Homo sapiens: one gene and its partners. The protein of the gene in region 1 purifies or fractionates together with the protein of each later gene. This does not show direct contact. Each region holds a gene or a part of one and is shown on either strand. Other genes may lie near its edges.

What was found.
Region 2: the proteins of DUSP15 (region 1) and HLCS purify together in Homo sapiens (affinity purification with mass spectrometry; one large-scale study listed by BioGRID and IntAct). This does not show direct contact.
Region 3: the proteins of DUSP15 (region 1) and PTPN5 purify together in Homo sapiens (affinity purification with mass spectrometry; one large-scale study listed by BioGRID and IntAct). This does not show direct contact.

Annotation. Positions count from the first base shown.
Region 1 is NC_000020.11:31,868,279-31,872,027, forward strand, and holds the start of DUSP15 (dual specificity protein phosphatase 15), read right to left. Parts: upstream 2,250-3,749; 5' UTR 2,060-2,249; coding exon 2,039-2,059; intron 1,954-2,038; exon of another isoform or gene 1,532-1,953; intron 1,512-1,531; exon of another isoform or gene 1,428-1,511; intron 1,320-1,427; coding exon 1,286-1,319; intron 1,123-1,285; exon of another isoform or gene 875-1,122; intron 1-874. Other genes in the region: probable tubulin polyglutamylase TTLL9, read left to right, coding at 2,849-2,917. UniProt on the Homo sapiens protein: May dephosphorylate MAPK13, ATF2, ERBB3, PDGFRB and SNX6.
Region 2 is NC_000021.9:36,935,578-36,939,226, forward strand, and holds part of HLCS (biotin--protein ligase), read right to left. Parts: intron 3,418-3,649; coding exon 3,255-3,417; intron 1,816-3,254; coding exon 872-1,815; intron 1-871. UniProt on the Homo sapiens protein: Biotin--protein ligase catalyzing the biotinylation of the 4 biotin-dependent carboxylases acetyl-CoA-carboxylase, pyruvate carboxylase, propionyl-CoA carboxylase, and methylcrotonyl-CoA carboxylase.
Region 3 is NC_000011.10:18,785,176-18,788,824, forward strand, and holds part of PTPN5 (tyrosine-protein phosphatase non-receptor type 5), read right to left. Parts: intron 1-3,649. UniProt on the Homo sapiens protein: May regulate the activity of several effector molecules involved in synaptic plasticity and neuronal cell survival, including MAPKs, Src family kinases and NMDA receptors.

The DNA of each region.
Region 1 (3,749 bases):
AGAAATCAAGGTGGCATGAGCGGCTGAGGGAGCTCCCAGGAAGGAAGGGACCAGGATTTACAAGGGTGAAGCACCTGAGCCCCTCCCTCTCTAAAGCTTTTTCTGACTCTGCAGATGGAAATGATTTTCCCACTTTGAGTCACCCAAGCCCTGGATCAGTCTGCCCCTTAGCATGTTTTCTTTTCTTTTTTCTTTCTCTTTTTTTTTTTTTTTTTTTTTGAGACAGAGTCTCGCTCTGTTGCCCAGACTGGAGTGCAGTGGCACGATCTCGGCTGACTGCAACCCCCGCCTCCCGGGTTCAAGTGATTCTCCTGCCTCAGCCTCCCAAGTAGCTGGGATTACAGGCGCCTGCCATCGTGCCTGGCTGATTTTTGTATTTTTAGTAGAGACGGGGTTTCACTATGTTGGCCAGGCTGGTCTCGAACTCCTGACCTCAGGTGGTCTGCCCGCCTCCGCCTCCCAAAGTGCTGGGATTAAAGGCGTGAGCCACTGCGCCCAGCCCCCTTAGCATGGTTTCTACCCAGCATGTTTTCTACCCAAGGTCTATGTTCAGCTCTGCCTGCCTGCCACCAGCCTGGAAGCCCCTGAAGAACAAGGTATCTATACATGGGTGTCCCCTCCTCCTGACTGAAGATTGTGGAAGGAATGGATGAGAGAGTGGGGAATGCAAAGCTTGCCGGCTCACCGCCCCCCCAACTTCCAGCTCTAGGCTGCCCAGCTGCTCCAGGGCTCTGGGGTGCGACAGTGTTGGTGCTCATGACCCTGCTCACAAGAAGGCCCAGCCCATCTCCAGGGACCTCTCCTCTGACAAGGAGGAAGTTATGGGGGGAAGAGTTCCCAGCTTCCCCGCTAGAAGCAGCACCCGCAAACAGACCTCAACCCAGAACCTCAGGGCCAGAAGAGTGCTCAGCAGCTGGTGGACCTTTTGTGCTGAGGAGGAGGCTGAGGCTTAGCGCAGGTGTAGACTTGCTCAGGTCCACAGCCCAGGCCCCGAGCCCTTTGCTCTGGCCCTTTGGTCTGGTGGTAGAACACTGGGGAAGGCTGAATGGCGGGGAGGGATGTCAGTGTCAGGCCCCCATGCTCCCTCCATGTCCCTTCAAGCCTGGGGACACTCGCCTGCATGTGCACCCCTTGTCCTCCATCAGCCTTTTCCCCCTCCCAGCCTGGGGCCGCTTCCCTGCCCCCAACCCCATTCCTGAGATGCATGGGCCAGGGCATGAATGGTGGACACAGGCCTGAGACAGGCAGAGTGCCATGGCCTCGGGACAGAGTGGGCAGTGCTCACCAATGAAGTTTCCGAGGTAGAGTCCAGGAAGTACCTAGAGGAAGGACAGGCAAGGGTCAGTGGGGCAGGGGCTGCACCCCCTTCCACCCCCAGGGCAGCTGGGGGGCCCACAGCCCCTCTCTGTCCCATGAAGGGTATGGACCTCAGGGCTCAGGGAGCACTCTCTTCCCTTTTGTGGGCCCTGAGTCCTCTGTGAGAGGGGTCTGGGGCTCTGGGGAGGGTAGGCTAGGGGGCCAGTTAACCAACCGAGGGAACCAAGGGAGGCCAGCTTGGGTATGAGAGGGGAGAGGAGGAAGGCAGGTCTTAGGAGGAGAGGAGAGGAGAGAGGTAGACTTGCAGGGTGCAGGGATGGAAATTCTGGGGCTGGGGAGGCAGAAAGGCAATGACAGGCAGAGGCGGGACAGGATGGAGAAACAGCCCCGGAGAGAGCCGAGGAGTCAGCGACAAGGGAGAGGGACACATGCAGACGGAGAGCAGGACTCACTGGGAGACAGCCTGGGAGTGACAGCCACAGCAAGACAGCGAGAGACACACAGAGTCACGGAGAGAGGGCGGACACAGCGGGGACAGAGACGCAGGGTCAGAGAGGGGGAGACCCGACAGCCGCGGTCTCGAGTCACAGGGACACGGAGATGCCGCCGCACGGAGACCGGCGAGAACAGAAGGTCAGAGGCGGGCGGACCGAGCTGGTCAGCGCCGGGCCGCGGCGGCCGGGGCGGGGACCGGGGAGGCTGCGCGGGGCCCGCCCCCTACCTTGGTCATGCCATTGCCCATGATCCCGGGGGCGGCGGTCCGGGTGCACCCCCAGCTCGCCGCCCGGGAAGCGATCCGGTCACAGCTGCCCTGACGGCCCAGGCCCGACGCCTGCAGCCTGGCGGGGAACGGGGGGCCTGGCGTCCGCGGCCCTGCCCAGCCCTGCCCAGCCACCGCCACCGCCCGCCGACCCCCGGCCCGGGAGGGAAATGGTGGTGGAGCCGCCGCTGCCACCGCCGCCGCCGCAGGCTCCTCCTACCCCTTCGGTCATGTGGGGCCCCCGCCTCGGGTCGCGGCGGGGGGCCGGACAAAGCCCCAGTGTGCCGGGCCCACGGCCCGCGGGACAACGGCAGTTTGTTGGGGCCGCGTGGGGCCGCCACCTCCGGAGGTGGGGGCGGGGGCCTTACCCCACCCTGGCACCGGCAGGCGCGGGCGGATGGGGGGATGTCGCCTAGAGCCCCCCGGCCGGCCCACAAACTCCCGTCCCCCTTCCGGCTCTGCCTGGACGTCCCTGCGGGCCCCGGGGGAAAGCACCCAACTTCTCCCGCCTCGGCTTCTAGCAGAAACGTGACGGGGCTGGACTTTGATCGCCGAGGGCTCTCTGCTCTTCAGAGTCTGCTTGGAACGGGATAAGTGGGTAATTCCTTCCGATACATCCTCTCCACCCGTGCAGAGACACCCTACCAACCAGCCTTCCTCCTTTCCCATCCATTCTCCCACCCTCCTGTTCACTCATTCACTCGTCCATCTTCCCATCCATTCATCCATCCTCTCACTCCTTCCTTCCATCCATTTCGGCCCCTAGGAGGGATGGTGCCATCCAGGGAAGCTCTGCTGGGACCAGGCACAACTGCCATTAGGTGCCCCAAGAAATTACAGGTGAATGTTGGGAGAGGGGTTTGAGGGAGGGTTCCAGTCTGAAGGAGACTACATCAGGATGTATTAATAGCTAGAGGTCAGGGTCCTGGAAGGGGTCTGGAGACCAAGGTTTGAGGCCCTGTTCACCTCTGACCTGCTAGATGACCCTGGGAAAGTCCCCGTGACCCCCAGCTAACCCTATCTGTGTTTCTGAGGATGTTGAGGTGAGCCCTTCCTGGCTTCTAGGACCAAAGCTGGAGAATGTAAAATAATCAAGACACTTCCTATAGGACTGAAATAGAAGCAGCTGCACCAGCTTTGTTCCTTCAGCCATCACCCCCACCCCTCAATCTATAGTAGTAGGTGACTGGGGATTGTGGATAGAGAGCAGGACAGAGAGAATCCACAGAGCCCTTTGAAATACAGTGATTGGAGAAAAATAAAACTGTTTCTTCCTCCCTCAAGTTCATAGCATACATGGGGCTGCCCGTCTCAGCTCTCATAAAAGCCCAGAGTTCTCATAAATACCAAATTATTCAGTAAATACTTACTGAGCATCTAGTATATGATAGAGACTAGGGACACAGCAGTGGGTAGAGATTGTTCCTACCTTCATTAGCTAATGGTATAGACCAGCATTGTCCAAATGAAATATAATGCCAGCCACATGTGCAGCCACATTTAAAAAGTAGAAACAAGTTAATTGTTGATAATATTTTTATTTAACTCAATATATCCAAAATATCATTTCAACATATAGTCAGTATTTTAAAACTATAAATGAGATATTTTATATCCTTTTTAAATTGTATTAACTATTCAAAATCTGGTGTCTTTTACATTTACAGCACAT
Region 2 (3,649 bases), on another chromosome or scaffold:
TTCTGGACAAAATATCTACATCTGCGTAGTTTTCTCATTAGAGCATCAAATCCTTTAGGGCAAGTGAATGTTCATCTAACTCTAATGAAAACCTTTTCCCCTAAGGATTAAAAGATTTGGAGTCAATGACAAGGAATTCTGAAATAGTTTATCCGCTACCGTTTGCTTAAACAAACAAAAAGCTAAAAGGAAAAAGAAGATGAGCCAAAGGATCTCCTACGCAAGAAAAAGAAACTAGCATTTTCCTTTCATCCTCTTTCCATTTTCCCCCTACCTATGTATTAGTATGCCACAAATCTAAGTAGCTTCAATATTCTCTTATTTGAAGTTTTTCTTTTCAGCACTTGGAAGAGTGACAAAACATAAGAAAGGAATTGGGAACCTGAAGATGTTTTCAACACCAACTACCTTGGCAATCAACTGCAGTATTTCATCGCAGTGGTCACTGACGTCTAGAATCACTACCCTGATGGTTTCAACTTCCTACCTTAAATAAAGACTCAATTATATTAACCAAGGGGTGCTCTAAGGCAAGAAAGCAGACCGATGAATTTGAGAAAGATCATTACTAGTAAAGAACAAAACGAGAATTTTCTGACTAAGCCTCAGTTAACCAGCAAGCTCATTTAACCCTGACAGCTGCCTTGTTCCTCCCTCACAAGTCTTTTGGTTAACCAGGGTATTCAAGAAAGCCCTGAACTAAACTAAACTTTCTGCTCACTATCAGCAAAAGCTCCCAGCCAATAGTCAAAAACAGCCCGCAGCACACGAACTCCTGAAACTTTTAAGCGTGTACCTTTAAAAGACATATTCCCTCGCAAAAATACCCACAGATACCCAAAGATCACCAAATCCATGCTGCCCTGAGTACCTGGCAAAGAACAGCTTCTCCCCCGCGAGTTCCAAAAGGCACATGCACAATCATCCTGTCCTTGTCCTCATTCTCCAGGTGGCCCTGGAGCCTGCCGGGGCTGAGCCGGACGGGGCCTTCCTGGTACCTGCAGCCACTGCTCAAGACGCTGAGCTTCACCTCGCTCTGGTCAGCCTTGGAGAAAACCAAGTTCTGGACTGTCTTGTGCAGTGCACCCTTGCTTGTCACCTGAAAGCCACCAAAGGTGAAGGATGAAGACAGGCCCAACACCTTCCCTCCCTGAGAAAGATAGGCCATGAACTTCTGGTACAGGTCTTCGGGAATGGACTCCCTGGTAGCAATGACCAACAGCAGACAGTTGTCCGTCCACGGGTCTCTGAGAGCACTGTCCTCCAGCAGGTGGTAGAGAATATAACTGTCAATGTCCACACAGTCGGCCAGCACAGACCGGACCTCGTGGAACCGGCCGAGGGCTTCCTGGGAGTCGGAGCCCACATAGAGGAGGATGTTGGGTGCCTTTCCCGTGAGGTTGACTCTCCTCCCTTCTCTTTCGGGGGAGGTCTCATCAGCAACACTCTCCAAACTGCTGCTATAATCGTAGGGAAGGTCTGGAATGTTCTCGGCAGACGCAAACTTGACTGACTCAATGGTGCTGTTCTCAAGTTCCAGACACTCGTGGCAACTAGACAGATGGAGGTGATAATGCTCAACGGGGCCCCCTCCCCTGTCACTGTCCCCAGCAGGCTCACTCCCAGAGGCACTGCCTCTCCTTTGTTTGGGTTCTTCACCAAGAGCCTTTGGGTCATCTCTGCCAACATGCTCCATACCGTCCTGCTCAGGCTTAATCTCAAGAGAAGGTTCAGGCTTCGGCTCTAGGATCTGGGCTTGCTTGTTTGAGACCTGATCCTTAACTTCCTTCAGAGTGGAGTCCTGCAAGTGCACCGCTAAGGCATGAATAGGAGAGAGAGACAGAAAATTAATCAACACTTCTTGTATGACACATAGCTCATCTCAAGAATCTCATCACCCTCTCTGCATTCTGGGACTTACATTCCAGGACAGCCTCTGGCACGGCTCCCACCTGCATCCCCCCTCAACTCGGGGGCATCCTTTGGAAACACTAATTGTTCCCACCTGAAGACCCCAAGTGAAATCAGCAGTTTGCCCAACATCTTTTATACCTATTGGAGAACCTAAGACCCTCTTACGGAATGGTGAAGAAAGTGAGATTCAGAGAGGTGCCTTTGCCTCCTTACTTACAGATTCTATTTCTTGGGTGTTATTCTCCTTCACAATAATGAAACTGAGCAATAAAAAGGACACATATCTAGAGTCTACCCCAGCACGCCCCAGTGAAATGTCACTCTCAAGACATGCCATAGGATCAATGGGAGAAGATTCTTCCCAGTATCTTGTCTCAGGACTGGAACATAAGTTGACAATCACTAATTCAAAAACATTTATTGAGCACTTGCTACATGTCGGACATGGTATTAGAGACATGTACGAGGTGATTCTGGATATTAAGGGATTTACATAAACTTCCAAAGCTGATAAGGGACATTTATTTGCCCATCAGATGAAAGAAGACATTCATAGACATAAAAAGCCTGCTTTTAAGTCTAATTAAGGAAGAACAGTTTGTGTGTTTCCTGAAAAACGATTTGTCCCAAGAAATTGTGATACATATATTTTAAGTAAAAAGCGGTTTGATTTAGAACTTCATAGTAACACTAGCTATGCTTCCCACTCAATCAGAACTGTAGTCTAGACACTAGTTATACTGTATTAAACTATGTGAAATAAATATTATATGGGTTCTGAATTTGAATGCCACCTCATGAGCAATGCAGTCATGAAAACTTCTTGTTTAAGAAATTTAATAAGCACTGAAAATGTACCCTGCAGCCCCCCAAAAAAATCTTGACACATGCATGAATTGTATATTATTACAGTAAAATCAAACCTGTGGACTGAATTAAACTGAAACCAAGCATAGCCTTTATGTCATACCAGTAAGAGTGCTCAACAGTCCTTAAGCTAATAACTTATAGTGTCCCACTATGATAAAAACAGGGTCTCACTTTGTCACCCACATGGGAATGCAGTGGCGTGATCATGGCTCACTGTGGCCTCAACCTCCCAGCTCAAGTGATCCTCCCATCTCAGCCTCCCAAGTAGCCGGGACCACAGGCATGCACCACCACACCCAGCTAATTTTTTTGTTTGTTTGTTTTTTTGGAGATAGGGGTCTATGCTGCTCAGGCTGGTCTCGAACTCCTGGGCTCCAAGCGATCCTCCTGCCTCGGCCTTCCAAAGTGCTGGGATTACAGGCATGAGCCACTATGCCTGGCCAATAAAAACATTTTCTAAAGTTACTTACACACAATCTTTTGGGGTACCAGTCCATTATCCATGTGGAGTCTATCTTCCATGAACGCCACCCCCAGCTTGCTGAAGTTGTCCACACTTGCTTCAGCAATTAGCCGATAAGGATCCCCAGGTCTGCAAGCTAATGGCAAACAACAGTCTGACCACTTGACAATCTGAGAAAAAGCAGGAGAGGGAGGAGGTGGGAAAAGACAGGTTGAGATTTTTCTTCTCTAAAATAACCACATACTTTATTTTTCCCTTGAGGCTCCTACCACTAAATTACAGTCATTAATAACAAATTACTGGATATTACATTTTACTAATATCAGAGTTGTTTTGAATTCAGCATTCTCATCTCTACCTGACAACAGTGCTTACGAAACACTAAATATAACTCTCTCATTT
Region 3 (3,649 bases), on another chromosome or scaffold:
CGCCAGGGCCACGACATGTTCTTTTCCTTGCACCCCTCTTTAACCACCTTGATCCCATCATATCTCTTGAGGGTGCTTCAGATGGATGCTTTGAGACTCTGAGATGGAAAAGCTATGTGCCTGGAGATGCTCATTATTGACTATGTGCAACAATAAAGACATAGTTAAATAAAGCAGGGGTCAGCCAACCAAGTATAAACAGAGAAGTCATGACAAAATGTTAAGTGAAAAATGCAGGCTATAAACCTATATGTGGACTAATTTCAACTATTACAAAATACAGATTTACAGAAAACATAGAATAGGGCATATAAAATGATGGTTCATCTTACGTTTGTTCTCTAGCATGGAGTATGGTTATTTTCACAACTGTAATTTATAATTTATACCAGACAACATCTTTAGGCAGATGATGAAATACACACATTGTTAGTTTTGCAAGAATCTTCAGAATTGATTCCAGATGCCCATATGCTGCCACCATTGAGGCCCACAAATCCCTCCCGAAAGGCTTGCAGAGGAATGGGAGGCGAGGGGCTGTTTCATGTCGACTCTTCAGAAAGACACTTCAGGACTTGGTGTGTCTCTCTAATGACTCCAACCAACTACCTCACCACAAAAAAGGAGGGCAATTTAGGGTCTTTATTTTGCTACTGGACTAACCAGGAAATTTGGCTGTGAACAGTTTATCCCTTACATTAGCCCAAAGTTAGGAATTCCCATGATGCTTGTTCCCTTACAAATCTGCAAACAGTGGATCTCCCGCATCTGGTGTGAGGGGATCCCCTCCCCATCCAACATGCTACACCCCAGGTATAGAAACTTGAGTCACGCTTGCTTCAATGGGGACAAAGGAAGGAGGGTGGCTTCTGTTCCATGTGCTGCAGCACAGTGGGAAAAGCTTTTCTCAGTCTAAGAGTTTGGAAATTACTGAGTTTTGCCAGACACCGGTGGCCATGATGCTCGTTCCACATCTCACCAGATGCAGAAAAGATGGAGATGATGTTAAAGAATGGGGGGAATCTATTTTTTTTTTTTTTTCTTTGAGACGGAGTCTCGCTCTTTCGCCCAGGCTGTACTGCAGTGGCTCTATCTCGGCTCACTGCAAGCTCCGCCTCCTGGGTTCATGCCATTCTCCTGCCTCAGCCTCCTGAGTAGCTGGGACTACAGGCGCCTGCCACGGCGCCTGGCTAATTTTTTGTATTTTTAGTAGACACGGGATTTCACCATGTTAGCCAGGATAGTCTCGATCTCCTGACCTCATGATCCGCCCACCTCGGCCTCTCAAAGTGCTGGGATTACAGGCGTGAGCCACCGCACCCGGCCTAGAATAGGGGGAATCTTATTTTCCACAATCCCCTAAGATAAGGAAGAGCCTTTTGGTGATAACACTGCTTAAAAGAGAAAAGAGTTTCTAGTTTTTGTTTTTCTTTTTTCCCCTTGAGATGACCTGAGTTTCTACCTTCTACATATGACAGGTGACAGACCTGTGGCTGCAGATGGAATCTGGACTGGGGGTCCAGAGATCCTGTGATTCTAAGACTGAGCCTGCATGTCACCTAGCCCCTCACATGGTCCAGCCAGTTTTCCCATCTCCACCTGTAGATCCATTTCAACAACTGATTAGGTGCCCGAAGCATTTATATGTCTATAAATAATTTCTCCCTCCCCACTGCCTTCTCTTTTTGGGAATCTGTCAGTTTACTGGAGATGATAGCATCTTGTCCTGCAAATATGGGTCTTTGTGTTAGAGATGAGTTTCCTTAAAACCTCTATGAAGGAAATGGTTGAGAGTGCAAGAGAAAATTTGAAATGAAGCCAGAAGGATGTATATTTGTGCGGGGAGGAGGATGAAGAAAGACCAAAAATGTTATTTTCATTGTTTTACAGTCATTTCAGGTACGTTTTACTATTTCGTCTTAGTCAACAGCAGTGTTTATAATATAAAGCCATACTGAATAAAATATGCAGACTTCACTTAAATTTTCATACTTGAGTGACAACACAGCATTCAAGTTATCTGAGCTTTATTATTTTGATCATAGTACAGATTACTATACCCTTACTATGGTATAATATCTTTATTTATTGGTTCATATAAGTCTAAGATATGCAGTCTCACACATAAATGGTCATTTCCAACATTCATTCATTCATTCATTCATTCACTCATTCAACAATGATTTACTGTGAAGGGCCAGGCTTGGTTTGCTAGGCACAAAGAATATAAGGTGAATAGGATATGTGTTCTCTTAGATTCATTAACATCATGCAGCTTCTCATTCTTCAGGTCTATAGGCCCTTACATGATTGGCTCTGCCCACTCTCTCACCTTTTTCCTTATCACTTTCCCCCTTTGTCTGTCTCTTACAGGTACACTTCAGGTTCCTTGAAGACACCAAGCTATTGTTACCCCAGGGCCTCTGCACCTGTGGTCTCCTCTTTTTAGAATGCTGTTCCCCAGGTCTCCTCTTCACTCAGGTCTTTGTTCAAATATCACCTCCTCAAAGACAATTCTATTTAAAGGCAGATCTCTTTCTCCATTCTTCCTCCCAGTCATCCCTCTTCCTACTTAATTTTTCTCCAAAGCACTGCTCACCACCTGAACAATTTTATCTTCTGTCTCCCCTGGTAGAGCTTGGGCAGGAAGTTCGTCTTTTTAGCAACGTATCCCTAGGGGCTAGAACAACCTGGCATGTAACAGATGTTTATATGTATTCAGAGAATAAATGAATGAATGAACTGGTTCTTGATAGTTTAGGGTGCTTGATGAACCAGCTTTTCAGGAGGGCTCATTATGGTCCCTGGTAGATTCATAGTCCCTACTCCTAAGCCTCCCACTCCTCCTCCTATTGGGCTGTGTCTGTGAATGACATCCTTGGCCATTCAGCCTCAAAGCCTTGCCATCACTTATTCTTCCCTCCTGTTAGTGCCTACATCCAATCAGTTACCAATTTTAGTGACACTGTGGCCTCTTGCATCAACTCCTTTTTCTAACCATTCTTACAACCACCCCCAGTCCATACTCTCTTTATCTCTCACCTAAACCATTGTCATCATTTCCTACCTGGGCTTCTGGCCAGCAGGCTCTCCACATCCAATCTGTTCTCCAAGGGGTAGCCAGAGTGAGTTTCATCATGTTACGGTTTGATTATGTTTCTCCCCCACTCAAAAACTAAAGACTCCCAACTCCTTAGCTTGGCAGTCAATGTCCCCCCAATAACCTCCATCCCCTTACCCAACCTTCCTTCTCAAGTCCCTTCTTTTATTCTTTTTGCTCCAGTTGGAATGAACTGCTTTCCAGTTTCTGTATATATCCTAGAAGTCCCCATGCCTGTCCATCCTCTGCTCATGCTATTTCCACTCCTCGAAATAGTTTTCTTCCTTTCTTCTAACGTACAAATCATTCACCCAGTTTAAATGCTACTTGGCTTCTCCAAGAAGCCGTTACTGACCTGTGAGGAGAATAAAAGTCCTCTTTCAACTGTTTTTAAGGGGTTATCCGCCTCTCTTTTAGGGCAAGTCTAGGGAAAGGACAGGCAATACGACACAGAACAAAGAGTTCAGAATCTGGAGTCAGATCATCTGAGCTGGAGGCCTAGCTCTCTGGATCTGAGACTTTTGAGGTATGCACCCTTAGATAAGTGAA